Homo sapiens: one gene and its partner. The protein of the gene in region 2 interacts with the protein of the main gene of each other region in a biochemical or structural test. Each region holds a gene or a part of one and is shown on either strand. Other genes may lie near its edges.

The links. Proteins that work in one complex are often made in the same cells at the same time.
Region 1: the proteins of CAMKK2 (region 2) and PARK7 form a complex in vitro, tested with the Homo sapiens proteins (one study listed by BioGRID).

The regions. Positions count from the first base shown.
Region 1 is NC_000001.11:7,971,534-7,979,147, forward strand, and holds part of PARK7 (Parkinson disease protein 7), read left to right. Parts: intron 1-6,118; coding exon 6,119-6,205; intron 6,206-7,614. UniProt on the Homo sapiens protein: Multifunctional protein with controversial molecular function which plays an important role in cell protection against oxidative stress and cell death acting as oxidative stress sensor and redox-sensitive chaperone and protease.
Region 2 is NC_000012.12:121,272,315-121,279,928, forward strand, and holds part of CAMKK2 (calcium/calmodulin-dependent protein kinase kinase 2), read right to left. Parts: intron 2,272-7,614; 5' UTR 2,213-2,271; coding exon 1,742-2,212; intron 1-1,741. UniProt on the Homo sapiens protein: Calcium/calmodulin-dependent protein kinase belonging to a proposed calcium-triggered signaling cascade involved in a number of cellular processes. Isoform 1, isoform 2 and isoform 3 phosphorylate CAMK1 and CAMK4. Isoform 3 phosphorylates CAMK1D.

The DNA of each region.
Region 1 (7,614 bases), on a different chromosome or scaffold from region 2:
AGATCCATTCTTGTTGCTTTCCTATCAGATGATGTTCTGCCATTTTGGTTTTTTCCCATGCTGTAATTTTTGCCAGCACCTTCCTTGTTGTATAGGTCTTCATTAAATATTTGTCAGGGCCGGGCGCAGTGGCTCACGCCTGTAATCCCAGCACTTTGGGAGGCTGAGGCGGGCAGATCACCTGAGGTCAGGAGTTCAAGACCAGCCTGGCCACCATGGTGAAACCCCATCTCTACTAAAAATACAGAAATTAGCCAGGCGTGGTGGCGGGCGCCTGTAATCCCAGCTACTCGGGAGGCTGAGGCAGGAGAATCGCTTGAACCCGGGAGGCGGAGGTTGCAGTGAGCCGAGATTGTGCCGTTGCACTCCAGCCTGGGGGACACGAGCGAGACTTCGTCTCAAAAAAAAAATAAAATAAAATAAAATAAATATTTGTCAGAAGAGTGAATGAATAAACGAATGAATGAGTGGATGGTTTGGTAAACATCAACATCAAAACATGTTGCTGTTGCTATTTTGTTCAATACAGTAGGCTTTTCAAAAGAAGTTATGGGCCAGAGGTCCTGGGGACTTGATACATTCGAGTATCAGTGGTTCTCAATGTTCTTTTGGTGCACTTGCAAGGTCAAAGCAGATGCTACTGAGGGGCCAGGTGTGGTGGCTCATGCCTGTAATCTCAGCATTTTGGGAGGCCAAGGCAGAAGGATCTCTTGAAAGCCAGGAGTTTGAGACTAACCTTGGCAACATAGCCAGACCCCCATCTCAACAAACAAACAAACAAAAAATTAGCCAAGCACAGTACTGCATGCATGTAGTCCCAGCTACTCAGGAGGCTGAGATGGGAGGATCGCTTGAAGGCAAGAGTTAGAGGCTGCAGTGAGCTATGATTGCACTCCAGCCTGGGCAGCAGAGTGACACCATGTCTTTCAAACAAAATGTTATTCGCCTTTTTTCTTCTCAGTCTTTCAGGAGTGACATCAGAGTAGGATGATACCATCATCTGAGAATTTATTATTGTGTTTTAAAAATTTCCCAGTTTTATTAGGTTGATGTAAAAGTAATTGTGGTTTTTGCCATTAAAAGTAATTGGCGTGGCACAGTGGCGCATGCCTGTAATCTCAGCACTTTGGGAAGCTGAGGTGGGCAGATCGTTTGAGGTCAGGAGTTCAAAACCAGCCTGGCAAACGTGGTGAAATCCCGTTTCTACTAAAAATACAAAAGTTAGCTGGGCATGGTGGTGCACGCCTGTAATCCCAGCTACTCGGGAGGCTGAGGTGGGAGGATCACTTGAGGTCAGGAGTTCGAAACCAGCCTGGCTAACATGGTGAAACCCCGTCTCTACTAAAAATACAAAAGTTAGCTGGGCAGTTAGCTGGGTATGGTGATGCATTCCTGTAATCCCAGCTATCAGGAGGCTGAGGCAGGAGAATCTATTGAACCCGGGCGGCGGAGGTTGCAGTGAGCCGCGATTACGCCACTGCACTCCAGCCTGGGTGACACAGCAAGACTGTCTCAAAAAAAAGTAATAATTTTTAATATGGCAGATGTTCATAGATATAACCCACATAAAAGCTAAAGGGATTCTAAGACCTAAATGTTTGAGAACCGTGGCATTAGGGGCTGGGAAGAACCACAGAGGTTGACCACCCTGGCAGGTCTTGTACGTGGGCTTACTACAAGAGTCACCACTAGCCTTTTGACCTGCCCTGAGGCTCAGGTAATTATCTCTGCCAAAGGGCACTGCAGTCACTGCAGCCCAAGCAGCTGCTCCCCTCTTTGGAGAGAAAGTCACAGATCCTTGAGTTTGGTTTTCTTTGGCTCTGCTGCTGTGAAGCAAGCCTCAGTCCTAGATTCTTTGACCAAAGGAAGAAAGAGTTTGGGCTGAGTTTGTTTCCTTATGATTCTGCTGAAAGTAAAAACCACATGTCAGTTTGTCCTGTGCCACAAAAGTAGCAAAATCACTTAAGGTCAGGAGTTCGAAACCAGCCTGGCCACCATGGTGAAACCCCATCTCTACTAAAAATACAGAAATTAGCCAGGCGTGGTGGCGCGTGCCTGTAATCCCAGCTGCTTGGGAGGCTGAGGCAGGAGAATCGCTTGAACCTGGGAAGTGGAGGTTGCAGTGAGCCAAGATTGCGCCATTGCACTCCAGCCTGGGCAACAAGAGTGAAACTCCGTCTCAAAAAATAAATAAAATAAAATAATAAAAATAAAAATAACAAAAATTAGCAGGGCATGGTGGCGCATGCCTGTCGTCCTAGCTACTTGGGAGGCTGAGGCAGGAGAATCGCTTGAACCCGGGAGGCGGAGATTGCAGTGAGCCGAGATCGTGCCACTGCACTCCAGCCTGAGCGACAGAGCAAGACTTCGTTTCAAAAAAAAAAAAAAAAAATCAACCACATTTGGCTTACTGTTTTGTGCTGAGGCTAGATGGAATGCCATGCTAAGAAGCATGGGCCTTATAGTACTTTAAATCAACATTAAAAAATAAACAGGCTGGCTGTGGTGGCTCATAGCTGTAATCCTAGCACTTTGGGAGACTGAGGTGGGAGGATCACTTGAACCCAGGAGTTCAAGACCAGCCTGGGCAACATAGTGAGACCCCCCCACCGACCTCTACAAAAAAATATTTTAAAAAATCAGCCTGGTGTGGTGGTGCACACTTGTAGTCCCAGCTACTCAGGAGGCTGAGGTGGGAGGATCACTTTGAGCCCAGGAATTTGAGGTTACATTGAGATGTGGTGATCACACCACTGCACTTGAGCCTAAAGGACAGAGCAAGACTTGGTCTCTTAAAAAAAAAAAGTAAAAATAGGCCAAGGGCGGTGGCTCACACCTGTAATCCCAGCACTTTGGGAGGCCGAGGCGTGCGGATCACAAGGTCAGGAGATCGAGACCATCCTGGCTAACACGGTGAAACCCTGTCTCTCCTAAAAATACAAAAAATTAGCCAGGCGTGGTGGCGGGTGCCTGTAGTCCCAGCTACTCGGGAGGCTGAGGCAGGAGAATGGTGTGAACCTGGGGGGCAGAGCTTGCAGTGAGCCGAGATTGCGCCACTGCTCTCCAGCCTGGGCGACAGAGTGAGACTCCATCTCAAAAAAAAAAAAATTATATAAAAAACAGTAAAAATAGAAAACACACTAGCAGTGTGTTTATACCATTGAATATCCTGCACCACTGTTGTGGGCACTACACCAGAAATAGGAAAAAATGTGATGATGAGCTGAGCTAATTGAGATGAGGGTTATGGGAATGGAACAGAGGAGTGATGGAAGAGATTTGGATCTTTTAAATTGGCAAACAGAAAAATAAGATTCTTTTTTTTTTTTTTTTTTGTTGAAATGGGAGCTTTGCTCTTGTTGCCCAAGCTGGAGTGCAGTGGTGCAATTTCGGCTCACTGCAACCTCCACCTCCCAGGTTCAAGCGATTCTCCTGCCTCAGGCTCCCGAGTAGCTAGAATTACAGGCACCTGCCACCATGCCCAGCTAATTTTTGTATTTTTGGTAGAGACGGGGTTTCACCATGTTAGCCAGGCTGGTCTCGAACTCCTGATCTCGTGATCCGCCCACCTTGGCCTCCCAAAGTGCTAGGATTACAGGCGTGAGCCACCGCACCCAGCCAAGATTATTCTGAAGTGTTGCAGTTAGGGATTGGAAACATTTTGAACACAAAGAATATTAGCCTAGTCCTTAATATTGAGTGAATGAGGAACGCAAATTGGAAGGGAGTCTATGTTGAGAAGAAAATTAAATGATATTTACTTTGAGTAGGGGAGGGGGAGGAAGTGTGGAGTTGGAGGAGTGGACAGTTGTCAGCTGAGATGCCCAGGTCTAGGAATGAGGCCTCTGGAAGCAAGGTCTTGGCCACCTGGAGGAGCTGGGGAGTTGGCAGAGGTGGTCATTTTGCATGTTACCACAGGGTGGTGCTGTTGGCTGCAGAAGGGGACATGGTCAGCTGCGCCCTCTGCACTGTAGTGCAGAGTACAGAGCGTTTTCATCCATCAGAATCCCAGGTCCTGGGAGAGTGAAACGTCTCTTCTCCAGTATTCCAAATAGGGTTCTGACGCCCCAGAAAGCAGTGATTATGAGCTTACCTGATAAGTATGAAAGACATCAGTAAATTCCTGAATCCAACTGTAACATAAATTTATTCACATCGTAGCAGTGATTTTATTACCACCTTGAAGGGAGCAGCCTAAAAATTCTCGTTCACCGATCACTTTCCTCACTGTGCTATCATCTATTAAAGTTTACTTTAAAATGCAAGATGATGTAGGAATTTCTTCTTAAATTCTTACCAAATAAAAATTAAAAACAATTTATAAATCCATTCAAATAAAAATTGATAATTATTCAATTCTTACGGACTTCTAAAATTTGCTACCATACATAGCTGTCTTGTGTGTAAAAATAACGTGGAGAAGAGACATTTGAGGCTTTTGATTTAAGAGCTATAAATCAGGACTTGGTCTGAAACTGACAGCTGATATTAGGCAGAAAGCTTATGTAATTAGGTAGTATTTGTGTGATCTTCCTGTTTGTAACAGCTACGGTCTGAGTAGCTTGTGGGTATATTATATAATTCCTTCCTTGGAGTCTTGTTGAAAAATGAAAGGACAGTAAGACCAAGACCTCTCAGGTTTGCTGACACTAAAAGTGTACAAACTGTGCCACAGGATCTTAGCCATCCAGGGCACCTTAAGTGTTTCCAAGATCAAGGTGCTGTTCTGAAACGTATCCTTCTAAGTGTCATGTGAGGCCTTAGAAAGAATGTTTATATGTGTGGCTTAGAGGAAAAAGGTAGAATGAATACTTTGTAAAAAGCTTTAAGATGAAATAACAATGAAAGGTATATAAAATCTTTGTTTTTAATCCTTATTTAGGACCATTACATACGCAATATGCTTGTGACCCTCCCTGAAGTTGGCCGTTTTCAGTGAATACATTTAAATAAAAATCTCAAGTTAGGACCTGCCAATTTGGAAAGACTTCATCAACTGACACTTCCATGTGGTTCTTTGCTTAAGTAGCTTTCATCACGTGATGCTAGTGCCTTTATATCTCACACTTCCAGGCACTTCACAGGCTATCTCCTTCAAGGACAGTGTGCTGTCCATTTTAATCCTACCACCTGGCATACTTGGGTGGATAGGTGGATGAACGAGTGTTAATTTCCCATTTTATTTATTTATTTTTTATTTATTTTGAGACAGAGTCTCGCTCTGTCGCCCAGGCTGGAGTGCAGTGGCACGATCTTGGCTCACTGAAAGCTCTGCCTCCCGGGTTCACCCCATTCTCCTGCCTCAGCCTCCCGAGTAGCTGGGACTACAGGCGCCCGCCACCACGCACAGCTAATTTTTTGTATTTTTAGTAGAGACAGGGTTCCAGCGTGTTAGCCAGGATGGTCTTGATCTCCTGACCTCATGATCCAGCCGCCTTGGCCTCCCAAAGTGCTGGGAATACAGGCATGAGCCACCGTGCCCGGCCTAATTTCCCATTTTCAAGTAGAAAATAAGATTACAAAAGAGCAATAAAATCCAGAAGTTCAGAGAGTACCAGTTGCCTTTAGCATGTAACTAAATCTTTCCTTTTACTAAGAGTGAGGTAAGAAGTTGAGCCCGCCCCAGTGATCCTCCCCCTCCTTTGGACTCCTGGTATATGTGGTCCCTGTTCTGGGGATGGGGAAGGTGAGAGAGGTGAGCACATTTTGTTTATCTGTGTATGCTCTGCTGGTATCAAGGTAAATCTTCTTGAGTAAATGGTTATTGAAGTATTTTGAGTTTCTGTGCTTTTGCCAGATGTGCTCAGCAAATCGTTTGTTATAAACATACTTTATCTCTCATACTAGGAAGTGTTTCATTTCAGAATCGTAGCTGTATGTTTGGTAAGAGCCTCTTGATTTTGAAGAATACTTTGCTGTTGCAGTTTTTGTTGTTGTTAGAGAAGGGGTCTGTGTTGCCCAGGCTGATGTTGAATTCCTGGGCTCAAGCAATTTTTCTACCTAGGCCTCCCCAATTGCTGGGATTACAGGCATGAGCCACTGTGCCAGGCACTATTGCGATTTTTTAAACATGGGCTTTTCTATATCTGCACTTAGATCTTTTTATTTTTATTCTTAGGTCCTACTGCTCTGTTGGCTCATGAAATAGGTTTTGGAAGTAAAGTTACAACACACCCTCTTGCTAAAGACAAAATGATGAATGGAGGTAAGTATATGCTTGTTTTTGTTTGTTTGTTTGTTTTTTGAGATGGAGTCTCGCTCCATCGCCCAGGCTGGAGTGCAGTGGCGTGATCTTGGCTTACTGCAATCCCTGCCTCCCGGGTTCAAGCGATTCTTCTCTCTCAGCCTCCTGAGTAGCTGGGATTACAGGCGCATGCCATCACACCCAGCTAATTTTTGTATTTTTAGTAGAGATGGAGTTTCACCATGTTGGTCAGGCTGGTCTCAAACTCTTTTTTTTTTTTTTTTTTTTTTTTTTTTTGAGACAGAGTCTCGCTCTGTTGCCCAGGCTGGAGTGCCATGGTGCGTTCTCTGCTCACTGCAACTTCCGCCTCCCGGGTTCAAGTGATTCTTCTGCCTCAGCCTCCTGAGTAGCTGGGATCACAGGTGTGCTCCACCACGCCTGGCTAATTTTTGTATTTTTTAGTAGAGATGGGGTTTCTCCATGTTGGTCATGCTGGTCTTGAACTTCTGACCTTGTGATCCACCCGCCTCAGCCTCTGAAAGTGCTGGGATTACAGGCATGAGCCACCGCGCCCAGTCTCGAACTCTTGACCTTGTGATCTGCCTGCCTCAGCCTCCCAGAGTGCTGGGATTACAGGTGTTAGCCACCGCGCCTGGCCCATATGCCTGTGTGTGGTTTTTTTTTTTTTTTTGAGATGGAGTCTCTCGCTCTGTTGCCCAGGCTGGAATGCAGTGGTGTGATCTCAGCTCACTGCAACCTCCGCCTCCCGGGTTCAAGGGACTCTCCTGTCTCAGCCTCCCGAGTAGCTGGGATTACAGGCATGTGCCACCACAAGTTTCTTGTAGACTGGGCACAGTGGCTTCCGCCTGTAATCCCAGTACTTTGGGAGGCTGAGGCGGGTGGATCGCTTGAGCCCCGAGTTCGAGACCAGCCTGGGCAACATGGTTAAACTCCATCTCTACTAAAAATACAAAAAACATTAGCCAGGCATGGTGATGCACACTGGTAGTTGCAGCTGCTCAGGAGGCTGAGGTGGGATGATCGCTTTAAGCCTGGGAGGTCAAAGCTATGGTGAGCTGTGATCTCGCCACTGAACTCCAGCCTGGAGGACAAAGCAAGACCCTATCAAAAAAAAAAAAAAAAAAAAGTTTCTTGTGTACCTGTAGAATTTTATCTATCACATACTCATTATCCTTTTTATTTTAACTAAAATGAGATCTACTAAATGTATTGTTCTGCAGCTTGCTTTTTTTAACTTAATGTTAATATCTTATGTTATCTTTTAACAGCACATGTAGATTTAGATTTGCTTCATCCTTGTTAAGTACAGCTGCTAGTCCAGTGTTGGAATGTGCCATGCTGTATGTAACCTTCTCCTGGGGGTGGGCATGAAGGTGGTTTTCTGCTTTTGCCCTTGTAAACCATGCCAT
Region 2 (7,614 bases):
TACGTCCATACAATTGAAATTATTCAGCAATAAAAAGGAACTACAGATATACGCCACAACATGGATAAATCTCAAAATCATGATGCTGTGAAAGAAGCTAAGCTAAAAAGGAGCCATTGCTCATAGGTCCTAGCTCTGTTTTTGGCTCATGCTGTGAATTCTCCCTCCTCTCAACTCTCCAGGGCCCAATTTTCATCTCCAATTATGAAAGTTTTTCCTGGCCTTCAAAATGTAGTCCCTATAGCCCCTTCAAAATCAGCCCCTTTGGCAGTGCACAGTGGCTCATGCCTGTAATCCCAGCACTTTGGGAGGCTGAGGCAGGTGGATCACCTGAGGTCAGGAGTTCGAGACCAGCCTGGCCAACATGGCATTACCCCATCTCTACTTAAAAAAAAAAAAAAAAAAAAAAATTAACTGGGCATGGTGGTGCACACCTGTAGTCCCAGCTACTCATGAGCTGAGGGAGGAGAATAGCTTGAACCTGGGAGGTGGAGGTTGCAGTGAGCCAAAATCACGCAACTGCACTCCAGCCTGGGCAACACAGCAACCCTCTGTCTCAACAACAACAACAAAAAAAAGCCCCTTTAGAAAGGCATCCTGATGTTGGGTCTTCTTCCAATTAAATTCATTCGTTCCTTCAACAAATATTTTTGCGCTCCTACTATGCACCAGGTACTGTGCTAGGCTCTGGGGATGGGATAGGGTGTGGAGGTGGATGAAATGATCCTATGGAGCTTACGTTCTGGCTGGGTGGAGACAGGCAATAAACAACTAAACCAACGCACAGATAATCAGATGCTGATTAACGTTATGAAGGAAAGCAAATAGGGCCATGGGGCAGAGAGAGGCTGGAGGGTGCTTTAGGGATGGTGGCCCGGGAAGCCTTTTGGAGGAGGTGATACTGGAGTTGAGACTTGGACATTATCGGAATAGGCCTTACAAAGTTGGCATGGGGTGGTGGGGGAGGTGGTTCCAAGCAGAAGGAACAGCGAGAGTACAGACCCAAGGCAAGAGCTTGGATTCCGAGGAATGTGAAGGCAGGAACAGAGGGAGCTTAGGGAGCTGGCAGCAGAATGGCAGGAGGGATGGGAAAGGGTCAGACCACACAGGGCCCTGTGAACCCTGGTGAGGATCTGAGTTCTCTGTATCCCCGCAGGGTTTACGGTAAGGGTCCTGTGAGAAATGCACAGCAAGTGCTGAACCCAGTGCCTGGTGCCAACACACGCTCGGCCAGGCGGGTCGTCGCCAGGCTCTCAGTGACCCGCCTCATTCCATCACACCTTCGCCCACACCTCAGTCTCTTTGCTGGAGGCTCCCTCCGGCCCTGCAACTGCTCTGTCCACACCCACAGGGGGTCACACACACCTGCCCCAGCAGCCCTCACCCATGAGTATAAATACCCCAGCTCCCTTGCCCCTGGTGGGATGACTGAGGCTGCTGCTCTGTGCTGTTCCCCAGGGTCCCACGGAAGGAAAAAGCCCCAGCGGCCCACACTCCACACTGGTAATCGGCTCCATGACCCACCCTTTGCTGACTGCCTTCCCTTCCCCATGCTGATTCACGACCCCCCTAGGGCCCCTTTTTGGCCCCAGCCGCCCCCAAGGTTCCCTGGAGTCAACTCCTAGGTCAACCGTGGCACTCAGATCCTTCTGGGGGAGCCCAACCTTCCACAGAGGCCCTGCTGGGGGCAGGGAAGGGCACCAGGGACCCCTAGGACCTGGCTCACCACCGGCTCACGCACCTGCATACCCGTGATGGAGACGTGGTGAGACTCCACTGTCGGCCGCCGGGGCAGCCGAGGCGAGGACTGCGGGGAGCTGACGGGTGAGTAGGGCAGGGACGGGCAGATGCAGCGTCCGTTCATGTCCAGGCTGCCACCGGCTGCCAGCCCACCCTGGGACCGCTCTTGCAGAGACAGCTTGCGACCGGAGAGGTGGGGCCGGGCCTGGGACCCGGAGGTGTCAAGGGGGACCTCTTGGCCATCGGCCTCCAGGGGCCGGTCCCGCGCCAAGCCGAGGTCCACAGCACAGCCCGGCTCACACTCGGTGACCACAATGAAGGACTCCATGCCCAGGTGGATGCTCAAGGATGAGAGGCCCCGCAGGGCCTCACAGGGCTTCTGGCTTTCGCTGCTGCTGCTGCCCCTGCCCCCCAGCTCATCCTGGGGGGCGGCCCGGTTGCTGCTGGGCTGGCTAGAGACACATGATGACATGGTGCATGCGCCAGCTTCATCCAGCACACTGGGGCACTCCCATCCGGCAGCGGAGCCACCTGCAGAAAGAGAAAGGGTCAGCTGGCCCAGCTCCTACGGGCAGGGACAGGAAAGGATCCCCTCTCCTCCTGGCCCAGGCTGCTGTCTAATTCCTGCCTCCAGTTGACATCCTAAAAAAATCTTGCAAAACATGGTGTGATCTGATCTCTGAGTCTATACAGAAAAGCAGAGTCTGCATCTTCTTATATTTTTTCTTTTATTATTTTTTCTTTTTTTTTCTTTTTTTTTTTTTTGAGACAAGGTCTCTCCCTCTCTCTGTTGCCCAGGCTGGAGTACAGTGGTGCGATCATAGCTCACTGTACCCTTGAACTCCTAGGCTCAAGTGATCCTCCCATCTCAGCCTCCCAAGTAGCTGGAACCACTTCTCACATACCATGACAATAATTCCTAACTCAATTCCTATAGGAACAAGTATAAGAAAACCCCCAAATAGAGCACACATATCCCCTACAGAATTGACAGCTGCTTCCAGCTCAAGCCAATTGTTGCTCGGCAGGAATCTGGGCCTACTATTGCTGGTCTTCCCTTTGTTTTTCCCAAGAGAAGCCCTAAGGAGGTTAATAAGTTTGCCTGACTTTTTATTTTTAAATGCTGGGCATTAACAATGCAGGTCAGGGCTGGACACGGTGGCTCACACCTGTAATCCTAGCATTTTGGGAGGCCAAGGCAGGCAGATTACTTGAAGCCAGGAATTCCAGATCAGCCTGGCCAACATGGTGAAACCTCATCTCTACTAAAAATACAAAAATTAGCCGGGCATGGTGGCGTGTGCCTGTAATCCCAGCTACTCAGGAGGCTGAGGCAGGAGAATCGCTGGAATCCAGGAGGCGGAGGTTGCAGTGAGCCGAGATCATGCCACTGCACTCCAGCCTCAGCAACTCAGCAATAGACCAAGACTGTCTCAAAAAAAAAAAAAAAAAAAAGGTCGGGGGGAATCAAGTATATGCCACAATATGGATGAACCTCTAAAATATTATGCTAACTGAAGGAAGCCAGTCACAAAAGGTCACATATATATGATTCTATTTATATGAAATTTTTAAAATATGCAACTCCACAGAGACAGAAAGTAGACTAATGGTTGCCTAGGACTATGGGGGTGGTGACATTAGTGGGTGTGGGGAATGGCTGCTTAATGGGCACAGGTTTTCCTTTTGGGGTGATCAAAACGTTTTGAAACTAGATAGAGGTAATGGTTGCACAGCATTGTGAACGTACTAAATGCCACTGAACTATACACTTCAAAATGGCCAACTTATGTTACATGAACTTATATCTCAATTTTTTAAAAAAGGCCAGGCACGGCAGCTCACGCCTGTAATCTCAGCACTTTGGGAGGACAGGGCGGGTGGATCATGAGGTCAGGAGTTCAAGGCCAGCCTGACCAACATGGTGAAACCCCATCTCTACTAAAAATACAAAAATTAGCCAAGTGTGGTGATGTACACCTGTAGTCCCAGCTACTCAGGAGGCTGAGGCAGGAGAATCACTTGAACCCGGGAGGCGGAGGTTGCAATGAGCCGAGATCACGCCACTGCACTTCAGCCTGGATGACAGAGTGAGACTCCATCTCAAAAAAAAAAAAAAAGAGAGAGAAGTCGGACACAGTGGTTCATACCTGTAATCCTCCCAGCACTTTGGGAGGCCAAGGCAGGTGGATCACCTGAGGTCAGGAGTTCAAGACCAGCCTGGCCAACCTGGTGAAACCCCATCTCTACTAAAAATACAAAAATTACCTGGGCATGGTGGTGGGCACCTGTAATCCCAGCTACTCGGGAGGCTGAGGCAGGAGAATCACTTGAATCCGGGAGGTGAAGGTTGCAATGACTGAGCCGAGATCGCACCACTGCACTGCAGCCTGGGTGACTGAACAAGACTCATCTCAAAAAATAAAAATAAAAAAGATTAACACATCCCCTTAGGCTGTCAATTCTTACCGTCTCTGGGACAGAACATTAACCTTTGCTTAACGTGTTTGACAAATTCTGCTGGACAAATGTCACAGGTACCACTGGAATTCAGGGAGTACATTTGTGGACAGACACCTGTGGATGATGGCCACTCCATGCTAATCACCCACATCACAAAGGGTCTCTCTGGACCATCCTGGCCAACATGGTGAAACCCCGTCTCTACTAAAAATACAACAATAAGCCAGGTGTAGTGGCTCATGCCTATAATCCTAGCTACTGGAGAGGCTGAGGCAGGAGAATTGCTTGAACCTGGGAGGCGGAGGTTGCAGTGAGCTGAGGTTGCACCACTGCACACCAGCCTGCCAACAGAGGGAGACTCCATCTCAAAAAAAAAGGGCGGGGTGGGGGGGGGGTCTCTCTAGATGTCCCAGGAAAACAGTGAGGGCTCAGCAGAGATTTTATGAATGAATAAAATGGTATCTCCGATGACATTGGGAGGTAGTGGGGTAAAAGAGAGGAAGGTACAGACAGCGGAAAGCCAGAGCTCCCTGGAGGATCTGGCTGAGAGGCAGAAAATGGCCCTCAGCGCTCTCGGAACGGTCCTTCCAGAAGAACTGATGAAATAGCTACTACGCCAGGCACGTGGCAGGGAAAGCCCAACAGGAAAGGCAAAAGGGAAAACCCAACGCCCCAGCCCTGACACGGGCCTGACTCATGCACACAGAGTGTGTGGTAAGAGAACGCCAAAGAGTCCAATCATGCGGCAAGATGTTCAACCTCACAGTAAGAGAACTGCAAATTCAAACTACAATCAGGCAGCCTGGTGGCTCCCCAAAAAGTTAAACGTAGAGTTGCCATATAACCAGCAATTCCTCTCCTAGGTATAGACCCAAAAGAATTGAAGGTAGGGATTCAAACGGATACTTGTACACTAATGTTCATAGCAACATCATTCACAATAGCCAAAAGGTATAACCAAGTGTCCATCAACAGACGAATGAATAAACAAAATGTGGCAGAGCCATACAACAGAATACTATACAGCCACAAAAAAGAAGGAAACTCTGACTCACACTACAACACAGACGAACCGTGAAGACATACGCTAAGTGAAGCAAGCCAGATACTAAAGGACAAGTGTTGTAAGATTTCAGTTACATGAAGTATCTAGAATAGTCAAATTCAGGCCAGATGCAGTGGTTCGCACCTGTAATCCCAACACCTTGGGAGGCCAAGGCAGGCAGATCACTTGAGGTTAGGAGTTCCAGATAAGCCCGGCCAATATGGTGAAACCCCATCTCTACTAAAAATACAAAAATTAGCCAGGCGTGGTGTTGGGCACCTGTCATCCCAGCTACTCAGGAGGCTGAAGCAGGAGAATCACTTGAACCCGGGAGGCACAGGTTGCAGTGAGGCGAGATTGCGCCACTGCACTCCAGCCTGGGTAACAGAGCAAGACTCCATCTAAAATAAATAAATAAATAAAAAGTGTTTTAAAGGAAAGAAAATACCTGTAACCATGATCGGAGTTATGATGATAAGGCCTAGGATGCTACGGGATCAGACGGGGCAGGAGGTCAGGAGAGGGGAGCAGTTGGTCTTATCTCCTATTTCTCTGTCCCCCATTCCCCCTTACTGTATCTCAGAAAGAAATCATCAACTCTGTCCCTGTCTCAGTTTCCCCATCAATGAGAGAATACAACTCAAGTTTGATATTTCTCTATGGCCCTAGCTGCTGCTACTTTACTTCTCCTTCTCATGGTCCTTATGTCCCAGAAGAGGAAACTCAAGATACCCTGAAGTTCAACAGCTTAAGGTCATTGACATCCTGTAAAGTTGGTGCCCATCTGATAGTCATAGGATTAGATGAACCAAGCACTCAGAATCATGCCCTGCAAGTGGTTAAGTACTCAAAAACTATTACTTCAACAAACACCTGTTGGATGCTATGGTTTGACTCTGTGTCCTCTCCCAAATCTCACCTTGAATTGTACTCCCATAATTCCCGTGTGTTGTGGGAGGGACCCAGTGGGAGATAATTGAATCACGGGGGCGGGTTCCCCCATACTGTTCTCATGGTGGTAAGCCTCACGAGATCTGATGGTTTTATCAGGGGGTTCCGCTTTTGCATCTTCCTCATTCTCGCTGCCTGCTGCCGTCCATGTAAGACCGGACTTGCTCCTCCTTGACTTCCGCCATGATTATGGGGCTTCCCCAGCCAAGTGGAACTATAAGTCCAGTTAAACCTTTCTGTTGTAAATTGCCCAGTCTCGGGTATGTCTTTATCAGCAGCGTGAAAACGGACTAATACAGATGCCCATGGCCTGCTCTGGTAGGTAGCCTATGCTCTGGAATGTTCCCACGAGGACCAATGTCCAAGCGAGCTGGCCTGCTCTTAAGTGTGTCCCTCAGCCCTGGCTGTGTGGCCTGCGTCCCCCAGGGCAGGCAGTCAGTCTCTCCCCTATCCTAGAGCTGCCTCTGATAGGGCTGCAAGAGTTCCTGAGAAGAAAATGAGGCTGAGCAGTGCCTGGGAAAGTCAATGGAGATTTGTTTTTTTCTCACCAACAGGAAAACAATTGCTTATCGAACTCTACACCAGGCCAAGGGCACTGAGCCATCCGCCCCCAGCAAGGCTGCTTTTAATCGGCCTCCTTGGCAAGCTGGCATCTGGCCCGGGCCTCCCTCACAGCTCTGACGGAGTCTCGGCCTCTGCGGTCTGTTGGAGGATGGAGAGGAGAGACAGCTCAGACCCCGGGCAGGGACGTCGGCGCTGGCAGGGCAAGCGTGAAACCCCAGAGCTCAGCAGAGAGGAGCCCCAGGGACGCAGGCCCTGACAGGAAGAGATGCATCCAGGGGCTTCTGGCCTCACAGACACCTAGAGTCTAGGCCAGTGTCCTGAACGGTTTGGGGGTCACAGACCCTACAAAGATCTGATGAAAGCTACCAACACTCTGTGCAGAAGAAATCATGCAAAAAGACAATAGTTTAGCCTGGAAACAGCAACGGCTAACATTCAACTGAGCTCTCATCAGGCACCCAGCACGGAGATAACCGCCTGGCCATGTAACCCTCACAGGACCAGGCCCTCTGCCAGGGAAGGACAGTGAAGCATTCGATTCCAGAGGGCGGAGCGTGAGAGGAGGACTTTTTTGCAAAGTTGCTTGGATTTGACAAAATGTCAGCCCTGGCCCTGCATCCTTCCCCATGAAATCCAGGCAGAGGCCATCCCCCAAGGCCTTGCCTCTACCCTGTTCCCTCTCACAGGGCAGCTCATCACGAGCCACCAGAGCCTTCCTGGAGCAGATGGACCCGGGACCCGGGCCAGGATGAGGGAAACGCTCCTTCCTCTGCCAGGAAGCTGAGTGGCGCAGGCCTCCAGGAAACACCTTCTCATTTCCTAGGGGCTGTTTCCAACCTGCATCCGCTACC